2 linked regions of the Homo sapiens genome follow. The protein of the gene in region 1 interacts with the protein of each later gene in a pairwise test. Each region holds a gene or a part of one and is shown on either strand. Other genes may lie near its edges.

Region 1 (4,314 bases):
GGAAAAAAAGAATATTGGGATCTTTCTTCTATGTCTGCCTCAAAATCAATCACTATATAGTTTTGTGCAAGCTACTTTATGTCTTTGCCTTTTTCCCAATTACACCAGACGATTTCCAGGGGCCCTTTGAACTCTTAAAATTCTAAAACTTTTTGTATTTAGTTGGCTCTACCTTTCTCCCAATGGGGCTTGTTTAGAGCACAGTCTTCCTGTTAGTGTGCATGTCTGTGCCACTTGCTCATTCCAGGGGGCGTAGGTTTATGCAAGTCCTGCTTGTGCACCAATATTTTTTCTGTTTCTGTACTTAGAGGGCCTTTCTGGTTCTCTAGTTCAGGAACCTTTTCAGCTGGCTACTGAGAAGAGAGCCAAAGAGCGGCAGGAGCTGGAGAAGAGAATGGCTGAGGTAGAAGCCCAGAAAGCCCAGCAGTTGGAGGAGGCCAGACTACAGGAGGAAGAGCAGAAAAAAGAGGAGCTGGCCAGGCTACGGAGAGAACTGGTAACTGGGAGCATGAGCACTGACGAACACAAACATGCCTCTGTTTTATTTTACCTGTACCTTACCTTGTACCAGACAGGATCTAAGGTAGCCCGCAAGGCTGTACCAAAGACAATGAGTGAAAGGGGGAATTGCACAAACTGAGGGTGGTGATGAAGTTGAGTTGTGAATGAAGCTAACGATGTGTACATTGTGATCTAAGTAGGAGCTGTAATTTTGGCCCTTTTTAGGAACCAACCTGTCAGTTACAAAACTCGCAGTGTTCATGAGACATAAGACAGTTGTTCAAAAAATACATTTATCCCTTTGATAGTGAATTTTTAGACAGAATTTCTTCCGGAAGTTTTCATAAGGAGGACAACATGTGGTATAACCATGATGCCTTTCCTAGGACTGTTTTTTATTTATTTGTTTATTTTATTTATGTAACTTATTATTTCCTCTGGGGTTAAGAAGCACCACTGAGTTTTGTAATTAGACAAGAATACATAGCGAAGGACATGGGAATTAAATGGCAACTGTATTTTTGTTTTAATACTGAGCCCAAACTCCTTGGAGTTACAGTGTTCGTCGCTCCAGGTAATCCTCTACTAACATAATTATTTAGATGTTGGTTATCCAAAAAGAAACCTGAACTCCACATTAAGGACCAATCTGCTAGGAGGGCAGCAAGTTGTGTTAACTGTGTTAATGAAGAAGCAGACAGTTTTAGATGGAACTTCGTATGATAAATAAAAAAAGAAAGGGTCATGGGGAGATGTTGGTAAAAGGTTACTTAGTTACAGTTAGATGGGAGGAGTAAATTTCAAGAGATCTATCATATAACAAGGTGACTGTAGTTAATGATATATTGTATTCTTGAAAACTGTAAAGAAAGTGGATGTTATGTGCTCACACTACAATAAGTGGATGTTATGTGCTCACACTACAATGTTAATTAGCATCTTGCTAATTAACAAATGCATTATCTCACATAGTAACCATTCCATAATGTATGTCTACTTTAAAACATCAGCGGTACACAATAAAAATATACAGTGTTATCTGTCAATTAAAAAGAAAGAAGGCCAGGAATGGTGGCTCACACCTGTAATCCCAGCACTATGGGAGGCCCAGGTGGGTGGATCACTTGAGGTCAGGAGTTGGAGACCAGCCTGGCCAAAATGGCGAAACTCTGTCTCTACTAAAAATACAAAAATTAGCCGGGCATGGTGGCACGCACCTGTAATCCCAGCTACTCGGGAGGCTGAGGCAGGAGAATTGCTTGAACCTGGGAGGCCCAGGTTGCAGTGAGCCGATTGTGCCACTGCAGTCCAGCCTGGGGGTGACAGAGCGAGACTGTCTCAAAAAAAAAAAAAAAAAAAAAAAAGAAGTGTAAGTTGTTGAGGTTTTGTCTAAAAGTGCTATACTACAGCTGGATGTGGCAGCTCACACCTGTAATCCTCACACTTTGGGAGGCCAAGGTGGGAGGATTGCGTGAGCCCAGGAGTTCAAGAAAAGCGTGGGCAACATAGCAAAGTCCCATCTCTATTTTAAATAAATAAATAAAATGCTAGACTAGCAGTTGAAACAGCTATTGGCAGCTATTGGCATAGGTGATTATGCCCATAGGAAGGTTCCACGGACACACTATTTAGGAGACCAGCCTCTTGGTAAAATCTAGACTACCATTTGCTGAGTGAATGAGAAAATAGTATAATCCCCACTCTATATACACTCATACAATCAGCCTTTTTTCCCGGCCTCAACTTTGATTTTTCTTTAGCATTTGGTACCTGCCTCTTGTGTTTGTCCCCATTATAGAACTGCTTCTTGCAGCAATTCTCAACATAACTGATGGCAACATTGTAAAGCACAATTCAGTCAATGCTGGTTAACTCTCTACTAATCTGGCTTGATTTAGGATTGATTTTAGACTACCCTAAAGGATGGATGGGACCATGCCTTCTTTAGCCACCCTTCCTGGTATGGTTGTTGTGTTTTGTTTTTGCTTTTTCCCCAGGATTCAGGCTTTTGGTGAATATTTATAGTCAGTAAACTTAAGACTGTACTCTGGGAAATTCTTAGCTTGTAACTTCTCTGCTATACTTGAGTACAGCCCTATTATACCCTAGTAAATCACACAGGACATAGGTTTGGCATTCTTTAGTGAAAGCTGAGGGACTTGAGGAGACTGTGGCCTAAAGGAAAGCTGGGGGACCCAATAGAGACCTGAATAGAAACCCTTTTGGGCTCCAAAGCACATACACTTTTCCATCATACCGTGTTGCCCCCCAGGCCCCACTCCCCACACCTGAAACTAGTGACTGGGACCTGTAAAACTCTACAAACATTTTCTCAAAAAGAAAAAAATAAAAGCAATTATAAGCGTAGTTCTCTGACATCCCTCTCACTGGTAACTTTTCCTTACTTTGCAGGTGCATAAGGCAAATCCAATACGCAAGTACCAGGGTCTGGAGATAAAGTCAAGTGACCAGCCTCTGACTGTGCCTGTATCTCCCAAATTCTCCACTCGATTCCACTGCTAAACTCAGCTGTGAGCTGCGGATACCGCCCGGCAATGGGACCTGCTCTTAACCTCAAACCTAGGACCGTCTTGCTTTGTCATTGGGCATGGAGAGAACCCATTTCTCCAGACTTTTACCTACCCGTGCCTGAGAAAGCATACTTGACAACTGTGGACTCCAGTTTTGTTGAGAATTGTTTTCTTACATTACTAAGGCTAATAATGAGATGTAACTCATGAATGTCTCGATTAGACTCCATGTAGTTACTTCCTTTAAACCATCAGCCGGCCTTTTATATGGGTCTTCACTCTGACTAGAATTTAGTCTCTGTGTCAGCACAGTGTAATCTCTATTGCTATTGCCCCTTACGACTCTCACCCTCTCCCCACTTTTTTTAAAAATTTTAACCAGAAAATAAAGATAGTTAAATCCTAAGATAGAGATTAAGTCATGGTTTAAATGAGGAACAATCAGTAAATCAGATTCTGTCCTCTTCTCTGCATACCGTGAATTTATAGTTAAGGATCCCTTTGCTGTGAGGGTAGAAAACCTCACCAACTGCACCAGTGAGGAAGAAGACTGCGTGGATTCATGGGGAGCCTCACAGCAGCCACGCAGCAGGCTCTGGGTGGGGCTGCCGTTAAGGCACGTTCTTTCCTTACTGGTGCTGATAACAACAGGGAACCGTGCAGTGTGCATTTTAAGACCTGGCCTGGAATAAATACGTTTTGTCTTTCCCTCCCTGATTGTGTTATTTGATGTTTTTAAATCTGTTAAGCCCCTTTGGAGGTCACATCTTATTGGGAAATGGGTAGTTTGAGAGGTGGGTCCAGGAACTTTTTTTTTTTGAGATGGAGTCTCGCTCTGTCGCCCAGGCTGGAGTGCAGTGGTGCGATCTCTTCTCACTGTAAGCTCTGCCTCCTGGGTTCACGCCATTCTCCTGCCTCAGCCTCCCGAGTAGCTGGGATTACAGGCGCCCGCCATCATTCCCGGCTAATTATTTTTTTTGTATTTTAAGTAGAGACAGGGTTTCACCGTGTTAGCCAGGATGGTCTCGATCTCCTGACCTTGTGATCCACCCGCCTCGGCCTCCCAAAGTGCTGGGATTACAGGCGTGAGCCACCATGCCCGGCCCAGGACAGTACTTTGTAATTTTTTTCTGTCTTATGTCAGAATATCTCCATATTCTGTTAACTCTCTCTCAGTAACCACTTAATCATGTATGTTATGCCTTCACACAGACTGTACCTTCTTCCCTAAAGACTCAGCTCAAGTTAAATTTTTTTTTTGAGATGGAGTCTCGCTCTGTCA
Region 2 (7,303 bases), on another chromosome or scaffold:
AACCAACAGGCCAGCCACAGTGGCTCACACCTGTAATTCCAGCGCTTTGGGAAGCTGAGACGGATGGATCACTTGAGGTCAGGATTTTGAGACTAGCCTAGCCTAACATGGCGAAACCCCATCTTTACTAAAAATACAAAAATTAGTCAGGTATGGTGGCGTACACCCGTAATTCCAGCTACTCAGGAGGCTGAGGCATGAGAATAGCTTGAACTCGGGAGGCTGAGGCATGAGAATAGCTTGAACTCGGGAGGTGGAAGTTGCAGTGAGCAACACGGCACTCCAGCCTGGGTGACAGAGTGAGACTCTGTCTTACAAAAATAAAATAAAAATAAACCAGCAAGTCACATTAAGGAAAAGAGGGATAAGAACAGTAGACTGGTACAGTGGCTCATGCCTGTATTTCCAGCATTTTGGAAGGCTGAGGGCTGGAGAATTGCTTGAGGCCAGGAGTTTGAGACCAGCCTGGGCAACATATCAAGACCCCATCTCTATAAACAAATTGAAAAATTAGCTAGGCATGGTGGTGGTGCACACCGGTAATCCCAGCTACTCAGGAAGATGAGGCAGGAGGATTGATTGAGCCCAGGAGTTTGAGATTATAGCGAGCTATGATCATGCCACTCCACTCTAGCCTGGACAGCGGAGCGAGACTTGATCTCTTAAAAAGAAAAGAAAAAAAAATTAAATCAATCAGTAATTATGGTGTAGGTCAAAGACTGTTCTCTCTACCAAAGTATATTAAAGTCAAAAACATAACCCCAGTGATAGGTAGAAAAATCAATATTTGTGTATTTTAAATATGTCTTAGCAGAAAATATTTCTGAATTTTTTACGTGTTTGTTGTATTTAGTTTTCTGAAAATGGTAACCAGAAGAATTTGAGAATTCTAAGCTTGGAGTTGATGAAACTTAGAAACAAAAGAGAAACAAAGATGAGGGTGAGTGCTGCCCTTGGCAGGTTTGCTGTGTCTGGATCTGGGGATCAGTACAACTTTCTCATTTCCTAAAACAGGTATCTTTGTTGTGTAGGGTATGATGGCTAAGCAAGAAGGCATGGAGATGAAGCTGCAGGTCACCCAAAGGAGTCTCGAAGAGTCTCAAGGGAAAATAGCCCAACTGGAGGGAAAACTGTAAGTGAGTGAATGTGAAGAGAAATTGTTAAGTGGAAGCAATTCTTGATTTGAGTCTCTTCACAAATTATTGTTTACTGAGACTTCAACCTTCTGTTAGTACTTATCTCATTGCCTCCCTCCAGTTGCCCTATTTCTCTTTTTAAACTAGAATGAGCCCTAATCATTCTCAAACATGTTGTGCTACAAAGTTGTATGAGTGCATTACTTTTGTACATCTTCTGTATTATTAATGATGAGGAAAGATTTCATGATCTTATGAAAGTGGTCATTAGATTGAAATTGAGAAACACTGGTATAGGAAATTGTGATTTATGCACAATCCTAGCCTTTGATTTTGAGCTTTAATATACATATAATAAAATGTGTGGATAGTAAGTATTCAGTTTGGTGACTTTAGCAATTGTATACACCTACGTAACCACTACCAAACAAGATAGAGAACATTTTCATCCCTTCAGAAAGTTCCTTCATACCCCTTCTTGTCCCCCTGCTACTGCCTATGTCATGTCCCCATCCCCATAACTACTTTCTCACTTACATCATCATAAATTAGCTTTGCCTTTTTTTATTTATTATTATTATTATTTATTTTTTTTTTTAGAGATGGGGCATTGCTTTGTTACTCAGGCTGGTCTCATACTCCTGGACTCAAGTGATACCACCCTGGCCTTCAGAGTGCTGGAGTTATAGACATGGGCCACTATACCTGGCCAGTTTTGCCTTTTTTTAGGACATGCAAAAGAGAAAGAGCATGTGTGTGTGTTGCTTCTTTTGTTTGATGTAATTTTTCAAGATTCATCCAAACCGTTCTGTATACTGTAATTTTTCCTATTTTATTTCTGAGTAGTGGTTCACCTTATGAATATACCTCCATCTCTTTACTCTTCTCCTTTTGATCATTATTTGGGCTGTTGCCAGTGTCTGCCATTAAAAAGACTGCTGTGAACATGTTTTATGTTTTTTTATGGACACGTTTTTATTTCTCAGAGAAATTTCTAGGAGTAGAATTCTTGGGTAATAGGGTAGTGTATATATAATGTTTTTTAAAACTCAGAAGTGTTTTTGCCATTTTTATACACCCCCTGGCAATGTATGATAGTTTCAGTTGTTCCAGATTCTCACCAACATTTAATGTTGTCAGTCTGTTTGATTTTAGCCTTTCTACTAGGTAGGAAGTGGTATCTCCTTTGTGATTTTAATTTGTTACCATGAATGTTGACCTTATTTTTATGTGCTTATTGACCATTTTATGTGCATATCACCTTTTGCAAGGTGTCTATTGAAGTCTTTTGTCCATTTCTTGCATTGGACAGTTTGGTGGAGGTAAACAGATAAGTAATTGAAGACCAGGTAGTCTGGGACAAAAGCTTTATGGGCACACAAAATGCTATTTAGTATGTTGGATGGGTGGGGAAACCAGGAAGACCACAAAAAGAATATTATTTCTAACACTTGGGATACTGTAATGATGGTTCTTGTCATCATAGGTTTTTTTGTCAGTATATATTCAGAAAACTTTCTCACTTAAATAAAAATTTTAGTCTTCTATTTTGATGTAAATTGTGAATTTGAGAAATTACATAAAATAATAGTTAAGAGTTAGGGCTCTGTAGTCAGCCTGCCTGATACAGGAGTATCTGGTACATAAGCATTATGTAAGATTATTAAATAACGAAACTAGAATGTATTAACATATGCAATTTTTGTTTTAGTGTTTCAATAGAGAAAGAAAAGATTGATGAAAAATCTGAAACAGAAAAACTCTTGGAATACATCGAAGAAATTAGGTAATATGAGCAGTAGCTTTAAATTGAACCTTATTTTTTTAATACTCAGTCATTTTCATCATTTTTCTGTTATTTTCCCTGTGCCTAAATAGATGTGCTTTTTAAGATAATTTGTTTTAATGCAGTTGTGCTTCAGATCAAGTGGAAAAATACAAGCTAGATATTGCCCAGTTAGAAGAAAATTTGAAAGAGAAGAATGATGAAATTTTAAGCCTTAAGCAGTCTCTTGAGGAGAATATTGTTATATTATCTAAACAAGTAGAAGATCTAAATGTGAAATGTCAGCTGCTTGAAAAAGAAAAAGGTATTACAGTGTTTTATAGTTACTTTGTTTAGATAAGTGTTACATACAACATTTAGGAAAAATACTACTATGCTAAAACAACCTTTTAAATATAATTAGCTATACTAACATTTTAAATATAATTAGCTATATAGCTATACAACAGCAAAAACCTGTACTGCATTTTAGAATATTTTACTCTTATAATGTTTGTTTTCTGTTTATTTCAATACAGCATATTACCTGTCTTGATTGAAATATATACAGTCATATAATTCTTGACTTTTCCACTAGGTGGCTGTGTAACAATCAGTAGATAACACAGAACAAGATTTGTGGGTTTTATTATTTAGCACATAGTATATATTACATGGAGTAATGATACAAAGTTCACAGTTTTGTTTTCTTCTTTGGAAATACCATGCTAAAAGCAGTGTAATGGAATATTATGGGAGTCCAGGTTTCTCAGTCTTAATGTTCTTATCTAATTCCAGTATTCTTGATGTTTTGCGTTTTCTAGAAGACCATGTCAACAGGAATAGAGAACACAACGAAAATCTAAATGCAGAGATGCAAAACTTAAAACAGAAGTTTATTCTTGAACAACAGGAACGTGAAAAGCTTCAACAAAAAGAATTACAAATTGATTCACTTCTGCAACAAGAGAAAGTAATTTACCACCATATTTTTTTAAACTGTTCATTTTGTGTCATACATTTCCCTATGTCTCTGAACACCTTTAAATTGTGTATATCCTTTGATCTACCAATTCTATCTTTAGAGTCTTATCCTGAGGACATAATCATGGATATGCTGAGGATTTAGCTACGTATTTTCACTACATGTTCACCCTAGGGTTATGAATAATGTGGGAAAATGACAACAGATACAGCAAAATAGGGAATTTTTAAAAAATTTTCTGGCTCATTCTTGTGTTATTTAGGCTATATAAACATTTACACTTACCTTGTAAAAGACTGTCTAATTACAGAAGAAACAAAGCAATTTTTAAAATCCAGATTATTTATAGAACATTTTACATATCAGTGAGAAGAAAGAAAGTCCACTGAAAAATTATGGGCATAGGATGGAAACAGAGAAGGAGAAGTTCTGGCCTGTAAATATAGAAAGATACTCCACCTTAGTAGTAACCAAGGAAGTAGAAATAATATTTTTTTCACTTACAAAATTGGCACAAATTAAAACATTTGATAACACAAAATACTGGTGAGAGTTAAGCCAACAGGTACTTACATGCACTGATGTGAAATATTATAGTGTTGGACAACCTACAACAGCTAAAGGAATTGAGTAGATCTATATACACTGACCTGGAAAGATTTCAGCAACAGAGTATATATCATTTATATCCCTCCCCAAATGTATATGTATATATAAGTGTAAAGAAAAATACCAGAAGGCATATATATTCCAAACTAGTAGCTATCTCTGCAATGGGAAAACTAAAATTAGGGGGGGAAGTCGTCAAAGATAATATTAACATCATTTGTAATGTTAGAATTATTTCACAATGGTGATGTATTTGTATATTGTATAGCTTAAAAAATAATTTTATGTAATATGGAAATCACCACACACTTTTTACATAATATGTGAAAAATAATGTTAATATCAAAGCCAGTTGTAAAACAGATATATATATATAAAATATAATTTTAGATTAAGAAGTTTCTGCATGTGCGTTGCATAGAAAAAAGCCTAAGATGATATTTGCCACAATGTTAACAAGGTATAGGAAATAATCTATGAAAACAAATATGCTATTTCTATATTGTTTTAAGTTTCCTTGAATCTGTTGAATTTAGGTTTCATCCTTCTTTATCTGTACTTTTTTTTGTCTCCTAGTACAACCTCACAATGCCATTCCAAATTATTTTGGTGGTTTTCTGTTTGGATATAGGAATTATCTTCGAGTCTTCATCAGAAGCTCTGTTCTTTTCAAGAGGAAATGGTTAAAGAGAAGAATCTGTTTGAGGAAGAATTAAAGCAAACACTGGATGAGCTTGATAAATTACAGCAAAAGGAGGAACAAGCTGAAAGGCTGGTCAAGCAATTGGAAGAGGAAGCAAAATCTAGAGCTGAAGAATTAAAACTCCTAGAAGAAAAGCTGAAAGGGTTTGTATTAATAGGATCTCATGTTTATGTATGACTTCAGATGTATTTATTTTGAGTACTTTTTTTAGTATTCTCTTATCAATCATGTGAGCGTGTTAGGTTGGAATTATTTTATAATTAAGTAGTAATTATTAATTATTTTACAATTAAGTAGTAGACACAGAATGTGAACACAAAATGTACATGCAAACAAGTAAGACAGCCCCCTCTTTTAAGTTAAAAGTTAAAGGTTTTGCCCCCTTTTTTTAAGGCCAAAGAGAGTTTAAATAAACAAATGACAAAAGTTTTACACTTCTTTACTACTCTGCTAATTTCTGAAATTTATTGAACATCAGCATTAGAACAATAATCAACTCAGGGCTGGATGTGGTGGCTGATGCCTGCAATTCCCATACTTTGGGATGCCAAGGTGAGAGGACTGCTTGAGCTCAGGAGTTTGAGACCAGCCTGTGCAATATAGTGAGACCTCGTCTCTACTAAAAATTAAAAAAAAAACTAGCTGGGCACGGTGGTGTGTGCCTGTAGTCCCAGCTACTTAGAAAGTTGTGGGAGGAGAATCACTTAAGCCCACGAGATTAAGGCTGCAGTTAGCCGTGATCACGTCACTGCACTCTAGCCTGAGCAACAGAGTGAGACTCTGTCTCAAAAACAAACAAAACACAATAATGAACTTGGGGGAAAAAAATAAAGAATCCCTCCCATTAATAAATAGCATTCCCATTTTTGTCTATGCACTTACATAGTGTAAGTTATACCTTTAATTACATTTTTCCGGGAGCACAAACACTTCAGAAATAGCAATCAAAATGCAAAGCAGGCTGGCACAATGGCACATGCCTAAAGTCCCAGCTACTCAGGAGGCTGAGATGGGAGGATCTTTAGAGCCCAGGAGTTTGAGGCTGTAATGCTCAACGATTATACCTGTTAATAGCCATGGCACTCTAGCCTGGGCAACGTAGCACAAGATGCCACCTCAATCAATAACTGATAAAAAGCAAATGAGAAAAAATAATTATAACTGGGAAACATTCAGAAGTAAGAAATCTCTTATTTACAGTAGAAAGACTGAAATCTTGGCTGGGTGCGGTGGCTCACACCTGTAATCCCACCACTTTGGGAAGCCAAGGCAGCGAGATCACAAGGTCAGGAGTTCGAGACCAGCCTGGCCAACATGGTGAAACCCCATCTCTACTAAAAATACATAGTAAATTAGCCTGGCATCGTGGCGCACGCCTGTAATCCCAGCTATTCAGGAGGCTGAGGCAGGAGAATTGCTTGAACCCAGGAGGCGGAGGTTGTGGTGAGCTGACATCGCACCACTGCACTCCAGCCTGGGCGACAGAGGGAGACTGTGTCCCAAAAACAAAAGAAAAACTGAAATCTCACTTTTTTCCCGAACTCTAGTTCCTTATAATTTCTGCCACATTATGTTTCCTTCTCCCATACACTTATTTATTTCATTTTGTTTTGTTTTGTCCATAGTAATTGCTAATTTTTTATTTATTAAGAGAAACTATTCCTTAGCCTACATATTCATATTTCATAGTTCAGGAACACAGGTTAGTGACAAACACTACTACATTTATTTAAATTAAAAAGTCTGATTTGATTCTTGAGTTCAAATTGCAAATATTTAAATCCTTGGGATCTGATCATTAAAACACTTGTTGTCAAAGGACTGTGGGCTAGATATGAGTTTGTATTATTGTAATATATCTCACACCTGTGTATCTGTCTCAGTGGATACTTTTGTTATTAATCTTTTCTGTTTTCTTATGATTAGTGATGCAAATGAACAGCAAGGTTTTTCATATCCCTGCTTTTGGGGGAACAATACAAAATTGTAATTAGGGGTGTTGTTCTATACTACAGCCAATCTCAGGGAACAGGAATCTTGGGAAAATAAGATAATGTCATTTTAAGAGAGGAAAGAAAATTGAGATAATTTTTTATTCCAACTCA

The links.
Region 2: the proteins of TPX2 (region 1) and HMMR interact in binary tests that used the Homo sapiens proteins (3 or more experiments, as listed by UniProt).

What each region holds. Positions count from the first base shown.
Region 1 is NC_000020.11:31,798,057-31,802,370, forward strand, and holds the end of TPX2 (targeting protein for Xklp2), read left to right. Parts: intron 1-308; coding exon 309-496; intron 497-2,913; coding exon 2,914-3,024; 3' UTR 3,025-3,744; downstream 3,745-4,314. UniProt on the Homo sapiens protein: Spindle assembly factor required for normal assembly of mitotic spindles. Required for normal assembly of microtubules during apoptosis. Required for chromatin and/or kinetochore dependent microtubule nucleation.
Region 2 is NC_000005.10:163,470,332-163,477,634, forward strand, and holds part of HMMR (hyaluronan mediated motility receptor), read left to right. Parts: intron 1-853; coding exon 854-940; intron 941-1,031; coding exon 1,032-1,132; intron 1,133-2,847; coding exon 2,848-2,922; intron 2,923-3,047; coding exon 3,048-3,226; intron 3,227-3,725; coding exon 3,726-3,874; intron 3,875-5,126; coding exon 5,127-5,341; intron 5,342-7,303. UniProt on the Homo sapiens protein: Receptor for hyaluronic acid (HA). Involved in cell motility. When hyaluronan binds to HMMR, the phosphorylation of a number of proteins, including PTK2/FAK1 occurs.